Regions from separate parts of the Homo sapiens genome. Here region 1 is linked to region 2. A link means that fine-mapping ties the variant in region 2 to the expression of a gene that starts in the linked region. Tissue or cell type: whole blood. Region 2 holds a variant in brackets; the other region holds the start of a gene. All regions are shown on one strand. Distances are from middle to middle.

The links. PIP is the estimated chance that this variant, and not a neighbour inherited with it, causes the effect.
Region 1: ERMARD starts here. The variant in region 2 is fine-mapped to the expression of ERMARD in whole blood (TOPMed, PIP 0.93).

What each region holds. Positions count from the first base shown.
Region 1 is chr6:169,749,184-169,754,905 of GRCh38, forward strand. It overlaps ERMARD (ER membrane associated RNA degradation), which reads left to right and starts at 2,439. Exons shown (of 18, transcript NM_018341.3): 1 at 2,439-2,480; 2 at 4,681-4,849. The coding sequence starts at 2,475. DYNLT2 (dynein light chain Tctex-type 2) reads right to left here and starts at 2,389. Exons shown (of 4, transcript NM_174910.3): 1 at 2,156-2,389. The coding sequence starts at 2,275.
Region 2 is chr6:169,330,326-169,336,047 of GRCh38, forward strand. LOC105378148 reads right to left here. Exons shown (of 4, transcript XM_017011621.2): 4 at 1-690. The coding sequence ends at 674. Among named protein-coding and RNA genes, the nearest start is that of LINC02519, 55 kb to the right of the region's middle. The variant T/A (reference allele first, on the strand shown) is at 2,695.

The DNA of each region.
Region 1 (5,722 bases), 420 kb after region 2:
CCTCCTCCCGGGTTCAAGCAATTCTCGTGCCTCAGCCTCCCTGAGTAGCTGGGATTACAGGTGCCTACCACCAAGCCCGGCTAATTTTTGTATTTTTAGTAGAGACGGGGTTTTGGCATGTTGGCCAGGCTGGTTTTGAACTCCTGACCTCAGGTGATCCATCCGCCTTGGCCTCCCAAAGTGGGGATTACATGCATGGGCCACTGCACCCGGCTGTATTTAAGAATTTCAATGCATGTGCACAAGTGAGAACAATCACGTTTTCCAATTTTAGTAATCTACTTCGCATTTTGTTACCTTTGATCGCAACAACAGGAACTCATTCGTGTTAAGCCAAAGTATAATTTATTGGAAAGATACAGTTTACATAACAGCAGAGAAGGCTGATGAACCAGATTCAGAAAGACACAGGGAACACTTTAGCTTCTCATCTTCAATGTGAATAAACCTCAATCATTTTCTTTGCATTATTTCAAAGAATTCATCTAATTAGCTTAGTTTGGGTCTCATCCTTATTAAAAAGTTAAGGGAAGTAGCTGACAATCTCACCAAAGCTCTATACAATTGCAGATGAGTTAATTCTCTAAAAGTTAACTGAGGTGCTACCACTAGAAAAAAAGAAATGGAGGCAAGACAGATAAAATCAAGAGATGGTCATATTGATGAAACAGTATGTCTTAAATTTTCCTATGCTCCAAAATAGGGAAATTAACAGCTACCTTAAATTAGAAATAACTAAGTGAACAGTTTCCTCAGGTACATTTAGTGAGCATTTGTAGAGTCCTTTCTCAATTTCTTCCCAATTATTGTTCTATTCAAATTTCTCACCTCTAAAAGAATCAACTTTAAAGATAGCTATAATTGATCACATCCATATCAAATACTAATAATTACTTTGGTCCATGTCCCCTCACTCCCAGATTTTAACCTATATACCAGGTGCACCTATGTGTCTCCTCATTTTGAGTTCAGGCTCATTGAATTTTAAAGACCACTTCAGACCTCAGATAGGCAGTAAGTTTATAAAAGCCACCCTTGTCTGCCTCAATATATAGAAATTTTTCTTTACTGTTGGTGACCTGTTACTCAGACTCATTGCCAAGAAATACAGCATAGTGTTTGGGAGTGTGAAGTTTTAAGTCCAACTGATTTAGGTTTCTAGCCCTGCTCTGCTCTTTTTCTTAGCTGTGTAAACTTGGCCTGTTTGCTTTTCCTCCTTTATTTAGTTCGTTCTTTCCTCTGTAAAATGTAGACACCAGGGAAACAAGAACCTGAAATTTCGCCATTATTTTGAGAATTCTCTTTTTAAGAGTAATCTTAAAATGTTTTAGGGTCTTCAAAAAATTGTTTTGCCTGTCATCTCTATCTTCATCCTATTATAGGTCCACGAAGTAAGTACGAAGAGAAACCAGTATAGGCCAATTGGACCGAGTACTAGCATACAGGTTCTGGTCCCAGCTCTATCATTACAGCTTTGTATCCTTGGGCAAACTAATTTTCTGTTAAAGTATCAATAAAATATAGAGTCTTTAATACATTAACGGTTTTCAAAGCCTAATCATATAGAAATACCTGTTATACCACCAATAAAACTGAATAATGACCCTTTCCATCAATATCAGTAAGTTTTGGACAGGGTATTTTCAACTTAAGTTTTTTTCTCCTGTACATTCTTCAAATATCCAGACTGCTGATGTTTTAAAAACCCAAAACATGGCACTATTCTGCCTGGTTTATCAAATTATTTTTTTAATACAACACACTCATTTTTCGCTAGCAAAACTGCTTATAATGGCACTAAATACACTAACATACTGTGTTTTAGTACAAAGCAATAATACTCAGAGTACTCTCAGGAAATCCGCAAGCTGAGTAAATTTGAAAAGAAGATCTTGTAACCACCCTTCCAATCGACTTATGTAGGGTTCTATGGCCCTAATTAAAAAACAAGAAAACTTTAGCACTCAAGTCCAAAGGGGACTGCCCAACTCAGTCTCAGGCTTCAATTTCGCATCTGGGGAAAAAAGAAACACAAAAGGGAGATGCTGCCTCCTTGGCTCTGGGGGTGGTGACGGGAGCGGGGCCCACTGGGGAGCGATTTCACTTAAACGGTCGGACATAGCCGTCTCGGGCCCCTAGCAGTCTCCGCACTCACTGCCTCCTTCTCGAACATGCTAGGCCTCCTTTCTTTCCTAGGCGTCACCGGAGCCTGCTGAGGGGTCTGGTTCGGGGTCTGGATGGGGCTCGACTTCACGCCTCGGCCTCGCTTCTCCATCTCGCTCTGTTCTCCAAGACGCCCACCGCCTCCCCTTCACCGCCGGCGGTCAAACGCCCTAGCCAGTCCCGCGAGGGCGGAAGTCTCCCACCTGCGCCTCGTACGGTAGGAAGTGCCCGCCAGGGCTCCAAAGCGCCTGGAGGAGGGGCGCGCAGGCGCCTGCGTCATTCACGCGCGCCGCAGCGGGGCACCGGAAGTTATGGAGGTAGGGCGGGTGTAGGGCCCGGTTCGATCCCGAGCTAGGCAGGGAGTCGGCGCCAGGCTGGGTGGTGCTCGGCTACGCGGAGTGGGCGAGCGAGCACGCGCCTGCGGTGGCCGGCGGTCCCGCGCTGGAGGGCGCTGGCGACGTCGCGGCCCTGGCCTCTGTGGCGGTATCGGACGCTCGGCCCTGCAAGACGCCTGGCGGGCCCTGCCGGCCTCCCTGGGCCAGGCTCGGTTTCTCCGTCGCCTCCTGGCCCTGAGCTGGAACGCGGCGGACGGTCAGGGAGGGCTGTGCGCGGTGGCGCGGGGGCGGAAAGCCGCAGGTCGGGCTCTCACCTGACCGTGGCTCGTTCCTAGAAGCGCAGTTTCCTAGTCGCTGCCTGTAGGGTCCACACTCGGACAGTAAATTTGTGTTCATCGCCGGGCGTGGTGGGGCCTGTGGTCCCATCTACTCCGTAGGCTGAGGTGGAAGGATCGCTTTAGCCCAGGAGGTGGAGGCTGCAGTGAGCCGAGATCGCGCCACTGCACCCCTGTCTGGGCGACGGCGAGACCCCGTCTCCAAAATGATGATAACGATAACTACCATTTTTGAGTACTATGTGCTAGATGCTTTTCATGTGTTATCTGATTACTGTAGCCCTACCAGGTGCAGCCTGGCACCGTTTTATTTCACTTAGAACTGAGATTCCGATAAAGTAACTTTTCCAAGGCAAGAGGTAGTCAGAGGCTGAGGAATGATTCAAATTTAAGTCCAGCTCCAAAGCACCGGCCCAGTGTAGTCTGCAGAGTTCCAGCCCCATAGAGCCACATGGAGGATGCGAGTGACAATCGCCAATCAACAAATAGTTGATGTAGATTTCTTTAGTGATGACTTAATTGTTAGGGCCTGCTGGGATTGTTCGAAAACCAGGGCTGAGAGTGGAAAGTGCAACTTCTGGGTGCAGGAGGAGCAAACAGGGCAACTGATAGCAGTTTCCACATTAGGAAGCTGCCCAGAGCTAATTATGACTGTCACAACACAGCCCCCCCTTAACTCAACACACCAAAATAAAGAGCTTCGGTTCCGCTTTAGATCCTGAATTTGACTTCTTTGCAGGTTTATACGATGGTCTTAGTGTCATGTGGGGTAATTGTGAGGATTTCGATTGTATTTAATTCTCCATGGAAAACCAGTACGGTTTGCTACTTTTTACATGGCAGGGAAGGCTAAACTTTACCTCTGCCCATCTTAGTTCGGAGTGACCCCTTTAACAAATGAAAGGATAACAAGAAAAAAGTTTATTCTTGGACAGAGTACACATCACAAGGGATAAACCTTAATGAGAAGTAACTTGAAATGGTGGCTTAGAACTACATTTGTATACCATCTTCAACAAAGAACTGTAGATTTGCAGAGAAGTGACAGGACACAGGAGAGCAGTTTTAGGCTTCAAAGGGCAGGAAATTGGGAAGGTAGATACATATTCGGAAACTAATGGAGTAAGAATTGTTTGCAGATTCCCCTGGTACCTTAACTGGTCTGGTAAGTCTAAAGTTATCCCCAGTAAAGAATTTATATCCTGTCTTTGGGCGGAAGAGGGGGAGGATAGAGAGAGCTTTTCCTTCATTTGCTGCCTCTTGTCTTCAGCTCAAATTTGTTGTTGTTTTTATATCGAAGAGGCATGTTTTGGGATGACATTGTGGTTTTCTTCAACACCGTTTAGGTAGTCAGAGGTACGTGGGGTTCTTTTTCCTTCTTGTTCGTTATACTTGGTTTCTGCTCTCCCATTCCCCATTTAAAAAAATTGCTTATTTTGATAACTCTGGGATAGTGAAGGAATGCTGAGAGCAATAATGCTCTGGTCGTAAAACACATTCAGCTTCCGTGAACTTGTATTTTTTCTTTTTTTTTTTTAAGTGAAAGGCAAGTTTATTAAGAAAGTAAAGGAATAAACAATGGCTACCCCATAGACAGAGCAGTTTGCAAATATTATGATTGATAATTTTAGGTCTTTAAGCCTTTATCATATTTGAGAACATTTATGTAAATTATCTTTAATATTTAATCACTATGTTTTAATCATACAGCTCTCACGATATCCAGAAAGCATGTTAACAGCAACTATACCTGAGTGCATTCAGTTCTTAAGAGATGTGTCTGAAATATATAATACTCTATTTTTCTTTCTGTTAAGCAGTGCCTTTTATTTTATTTTATTTTTTAGGTATTAATAGGGGACCCTATTACCACATGTCTTTCTCCCTCAGTGTATGATATAATTTGTAATCTTGGGTTTCAACTCAGAGAAAATTGTGATATCAATAGCATTGTAACTCAGAATGGTGAAGTATGCTGGAAAACAATCACAGACTGTGTGAGCTACACAGAGTCAGGTTTGTGCTGTCTTTGTACTCCAAACTTTCATAACTGTCCCATTGAAAATGTCTTGACCTGTAAAATTCCCCTTTCTGACCATTGGTTCCTTTTGTTAGATAATGTTATAATACAGGCCTAACTCCAAGGAGAACAGGAATCAATGTGAAAAGAGAGGGAATGAGGCCAGAGAAGCATGGAAAAGTTAATGGAAAGCTGGGCTAAGAAAACCACCTCTACAGAGGAGGTGTCAGGAGGCACAGAGGGGCTGGTGGGCTGTTGATGATGTAGATCTCAGGGCCTTGAGATGATTCTCTGTAGGAGTCATGTGAATTAAGGGTAGAAAATGACCAGTAATAGATTATACAGTTATTTTAAGTGTCTTCTAGACATTCTTGCACACTTTGGAGCAGAGATATAGGTGGGGAAATTTAATAATAGTTATAAAAATTACAGATGAACATACTCTGGCCTAGCAGTCCGTTTTCAGGAATCCTTAAGACAGATACAGATATGAAAATGTGTGTGTGCAAGGTTATTCCTTGCAGCATTGTTTATAATAGCTAAATAAATAAACAGCCAAACATCAAGCAGTAGGGGATTGGTTCAGTAAATTATGATAAATTCATATAATGGAATATTATGCAGTGGTAGAAAAGAATGAGGAGGCTCATCTTATACAGAAGTCTCTGAGCTAAGTTGGAAAAAGAATAGGAGGGGCATGTATTTGTAATTACCCTTTGGTATTCATTGATCAGGAACCAAGTAGATGGTTAATCCCAAACTTATCAAAAAAAATTAAAACAACAAAAACTTCATATTATAAATATGTTTAAAACAATTCATTGCCATTAGAAATCTCAGCCTAATAACGTTAACGTAAAAAAATCAGG
Region 2 (5,722 bases):
AGTATTTTAATAGTTTCAGGTCTTAAGATTCAAATCTTTAATCCATCTTGAGTTGATTTTTGATATGGGGAGAGATAGGGATGCAGTTAAATTCTTCTGCTCATGACAATCCGATTTTCCCAGCACTATTTATCGAAAAGGGAGTCCTTTCCTCAGTGCATATTTTTGTTGACTTTGTCAAAGATCAGTTGGCTGTAGATATGCTGCGTTATCTCTGGGTTCTCTATTCTGTTCCACTGATCTATGTGCCTGTTTTCATACTAATACCATGCTGTTTGGGTTACAATAGCCTTATAGTATGACTTGAGATCAGGTAGCGAGATGCCTTCAGCATTTTTCTTAGGACTGCCTTAGTTATTCGGGCTCTTTTTTTGTTACATGTGAATTTTAGGATTGTTTTTCTTAATTCTGTGAAAACGATGTTGTTGTTTTGGTAGGGATTGCATCAAATCTGTGGACTGCTTTGGGCAATGTGGCCATTTTCACAGTGTTGATTCCCAGGGGAGCAGTCCTCTTATGAGAACAGGTGGGGCAAGGTGTTTTTCTGGAGTCCTTGGAACGCACTAGGGCACGGGTGAAATGGATTCTATAAAACTTCTGTTTGTTTGAAGAAGTAGACTGCAGACACAGGAAGCATGAAGCCCCAGCGGTGAGGAAGACACTGCCCCTGCCATTATCCCCAGAAGGTGCCTGCATTTAATAAAGACAGTGAGAGACTGAGGGAATTATGTACTGGGCTCATTTTAAAGCTACTAGACCACTGATATGAACAGTAAAGCAATGAGTGCAGGTCTGTTGATGATGAGGATGCTGGTGACGATAGTGAATGTGATCACGGCTGCTTAAAACACTCTGTCTAGGTAGGCAGAACACTCTCTGAGAACAGGCTCTTCCACAAGTCTCCTCAGTTTAAATACACCAGAGAGGGTTTGGGGCTGGGAGAGTAAAGTCACTGTATTATTTTGGACAAGTCCTTTCACCTCTCAGAAAGGAGAGAAATAACATTACTTAGCATGCTGGAAAGAGAATTAAATGAGACAGTTTGTGTAATTTCACAGAGACTTCTGTGGCACTATTCTAAATTCTTTACAAATAGTAACTCATTTCAATCCCTTAACCACCGACAGGCTGCTGCTCTTATTCTCCTTACTTTACGGGTGAGCAAATTGAAGAAGAGAAGTAAACAGAATTGCCCACAGTCACACAGCAAGTAAGAAGTCAGGCTCAGATTTGAACCCAAGCAGTTAGGTTCTGAGTCTGTCCTATTATACATATAATATTGTATAGACAAATAAAATGCACTTTAAAATTAAATTGTCTACAAATGATGGCTATGACTATAATTAATCCCAAATCTACTTTGAAAAAGAGGGAAAAGATGCCAAATTTGGGTGGTCTCCTTAAGTCACGTCCTGGAAGAAACATAGACATCACACACAGAGCCATATAGGCAGGAAGTAAAAATATCAACAACATATTTGACTCAATTCTCTATGCATATGGTTACTATAGTTTGTTTTTCTGAATACACATAAATATTGCATTTACTGGTGTCTGTTTAGGCTATCTGTGAATAACTTGGACTTTTGTCTTTATCTCTGGTTTTATATGTAGCTTTCATCGTCTAGTTTGATCACAAATATCAAAGTACATGAGGCCAAATCAGAGTATAATTTCTTACAAGAGACAAATAGTGTGTATAGACGGCACCTGAATTCCACAATGTCATAATTCCAAATAGAAACCATGTGCACGGAACAAGAAGAGTAGATGGTATCACATTCCCTCTTCCCTCTTTTCACGGCACTGCAGGGCAGCAGGGCAGAGCTCTCAGGGGAAGTCAGAACACGGCCCTGGCAGTGATTTGACCTCAGCACACAGCTGTGTGCACGGTCTGGGGGCACCTGGGCTCCTTTCAGCAGCTGCCTGCACACAACCTGCAGACATAAGATGATGCAGGAGGACTGGATATTAGGAAGCTGAAAGGCATTTAAACTGTGTTCTGAATACTACACATATAGACGGAGATGGGAAAGGGCCACTCTGCCTTGTTCATGAGGGTAGATGAGTATTCCGTGTGTCTGCGGACTGGTGACATTTGAAAGCATGCCATCAATAAGCCACCGGCCACGGCTGGATTTCCGCAGGGGTTAGTGGATCTCCCAGCTCCAGGCTACACCAAGGCAAAAACGTGGGCCCCAACCCCCAAGGTTATCTCATGGTCCTTGGAAGGTTCTGGTGAGAAGGAGGGAGATAAAAGGAATGCTCGATGACTCTGGAGAGAGACGGGTGTGACTGGACTCCATCACCATTCGTAGCATGATCTTTTGGACATAAACCTACTTTATGATACTAAAAAAGAATTAGAAATAAAATGTTGCTTTAATCAAGGAGTTCTAGCACTATATAATTCCTTTGAGTATAAGGAAGAGGTTTATACATCACAGAAACACATGAACTTGTACTCACCCAAAATTCTTCAATGACACAAAAGAATTACTCCAAATTTTACTGGAAAAATAGAATTCTACCGAATGTTTACTAAATCCCCAAAGATGATTTTTTAAAAACATTTGCTGCATAAATCATGATAAAAGAAAAACTAGCATGTGCTCCCAATCTTATTTGAATATTTCTTCCATTGGAGCACACAGTGTTGGTTTAAAAGATACACATCATGTGGAATCAATCTCA[T/A]AATTCACTTGGAATCTTCTCTCAAATGGAATATCACAATCATTGAATAGTTTAATGTGAAGAAAAGTGAGTAGAATACTATGAAATACAAGAATATTTCATTAGAAGGAAATCATCTTGAAATCCCTTGAAGACGAGCCAGTTACTTGGGTAGAAAGGCTGTTTCCACGGTGTGCCACCCAGTCCCCGGCCTTCAGAGCCAACTCCATGCCCCTGTTTTCTACCCACCAGCAGCTCACACAGGAGGCACCGCCAGCCAAAGCAGCCTCCTGAGATCTCCGCTTGCTTTTGCTCAACCAAATCTGCCTCCAATTCTGTCAATATCCATCTCTGTTGAGTTGGTTTAGGGAGAGCTCTGAGTTCACTTTTGGCTGTGTGTGTGTGTGTGTTTCCTCAATGCTGGAACTTGCTTTCTGGTATGGGTCCCTGCTCTTGCTCCCAGAGCTCTTCATGACCTCCTGAAGAAGCCAAGCTCTGCCCCTGTGGAAACCACGTCCATCACTGCCCACTTGTGTCCTGCCCATATGAGGTCTGGCCGCCATAAGGGGCAGGGCAGGATTTCTGTATTTCACCAGAATCTGCAGTTGGTCCCTGGAATCTCATCAAATACCTATGAGTTGGATGAATTCCTTTCCTCGTGAGGTTTCAAGATAACTTGGGGTTCCCGGCCTGTCAGAAAGTGACATTCTTTACTTACCACAGATCACAACCCCTGTGCAGGGACTGTGTACACAGAATAAGAGGACAGTTTCCAAGGGCTTTGTTGGCTTTATAAGTCAAGTTTGATTCCTAAAAGGAGAGCACAACATTCCAGCCAATGCCTTGGCAAAATAATCAGTTTTTCCTATTGTGTCCTGTTACAAATGAAAACAGATTCTTATTGTATTTATGCAAATAACTATATATAAACAGTTCCAAATTCTGGAGAAATCAGGTAGAGAGAAACAAATATGCCCCAAATTTTGTTCATAAGAATATACTTGTTAAAAGCCATTAATAGCTCAAAAGTTTCCTTGACTCTGAAAAAGCAAAACAAAGGATTAGCAACATTGCTTAACATTTTAAGCAAAAGTCAAAAAGATCATTTCAGTCTTCTATCAGTTCAGTTCATGCAGTTCATTCCTGTCCTACTTGATATTAGTAAATATTTTAGCTCTTCAAGAGTCGTGAACGTTTTTCTTCTATGCTAATGTCACAATCTTCAAAGTTATCAGAAACCTGCATTCAAGAGCACCTGGGAGAGCTTTCCAGCTAATTATAAAACCACCTTCTAAAGAGGACCAAAACAAGACAATCGTTTATGGATGACATTCAGGAGCACCTGGGAGAGCTTTCCAGCTAATTATAAAACCACCTTCTAAAGAGGACCAAAACAAGACAATTGTTTACGGATGACATTCAAGAGCACCTGTGAGAGCTTTCCAGCTAAGTATAAAACCACCTTCTAAAGAGGACCAAAACAAGACAATCGTTTACGGATGACAAAAGTTTTAGGGTAGGCATAGTTAAAAACACAATTGACAAGGAAATCTGTTACTTCTGTGGCACACAATAATTTAACATAACAATTATTACTGATAATGTCCACTAAGATACATCAGAAATATAGGAGTCTCCCATAACTTTGAAACAAATACCAAAACATATTTATACAAATATAGCCCAAAGACAGCCAAACACCATTTCATATCTAACAATACTTCCTGTGTAATGTTTATACCAAATAGGTCAAATTTCCCCTTTACATTAGTTACACCCAATTCTTAATAAAACCTTATAAACATATTTACCCAATTTTAATGTTTGACCATAAGGTAAGATTTTTATAGAACTTTTCTAACCCTTTACAGTTTTTGTTAAAGAGCAGGTTAGTGCTCTAAGAGAAACCCATTGTGTTTTTATTTTAATGCTCAATTTACAGAAAAACTGGATGATACTCCTTTAACTTTAGCCAATGTGTTTACACACAGAATTTCCCTTACAATCAACCTTCCACACCTTGCTTAAACCTTCATCTTTATTTTATCTAACTTAAAACAACACTTTAAATCTAGGCAAAAAATCCACATCCTCATGCCTCCTTATAATCTTTTTACCAAAAATATATTTTACTTTCCTTACACACGTTGCACGTAAACTGACATAAAGAATGTTGCTATTTCTTCAACAGCTTTAAATACATGTTACTCTGTTAACTCTTAGGAACCTTCACTTTTGGTGAAAACCTTGGTAAGGTTGGGATTTGAATGAAGAACTAGGTGTGAAGCCTAGGACCTAGACAGAAGTGCAGAAAAAGTCTGACTTATTCCAGCATCTAACTCCATGTGTCCCAGGCCATATCTAGCTGTAAAGCAGGCAGTTGTGCGGCTAAGAGTCATAGTGGCATTTTATACAGCATTTAGGAGGCCTAATCACCTTTAAATTGTATATTTCTTGCATAAATTCGCTTTCATAAATTCTTTCATGACTACACAGACAAGCTACGACACGCCTTGACTTTCTGACTTGTCCTAAACATCCCTCTTTTTAAACAACCAGTCATTTTACTTTTAGGAAAGAATTTACCATACAAGATCCTTTCTTATATAAAATCTCTTTTCTTTATACCTTTTTGCATAGCTAAGGGCATGGTTAATTTCATGTGTCCCCAGGCCTTATCTAGAATTTAGCACTCCAAAATAAATTGAACAATTTGTAAGTCAAAGAAACAGTTTATGACCAAAAACATTTAGCAAACCTAATATTTGACCTGCATAATTTAGTCCAAATGTTTACATTTTTTAGGAGATTTTCATGTTACCAATAATCTTTAAAACTCTCTTTATACTTTCTTTATAGCTCTCTTGTTTTCTGGTTTCTTTTACCTTGTTTTGTATATAACCTTTAAATAAGCTTTGGATTAGACAAAAATTAATTACCCTGAAAAAAGGACACAATATTTAGAAAGAATGTTTTCCTACAATATATTTTCATTGGAAAATAGCCAAATAATGAAATGTCTGTTATTAAATTTAATATAGCTTTAGAT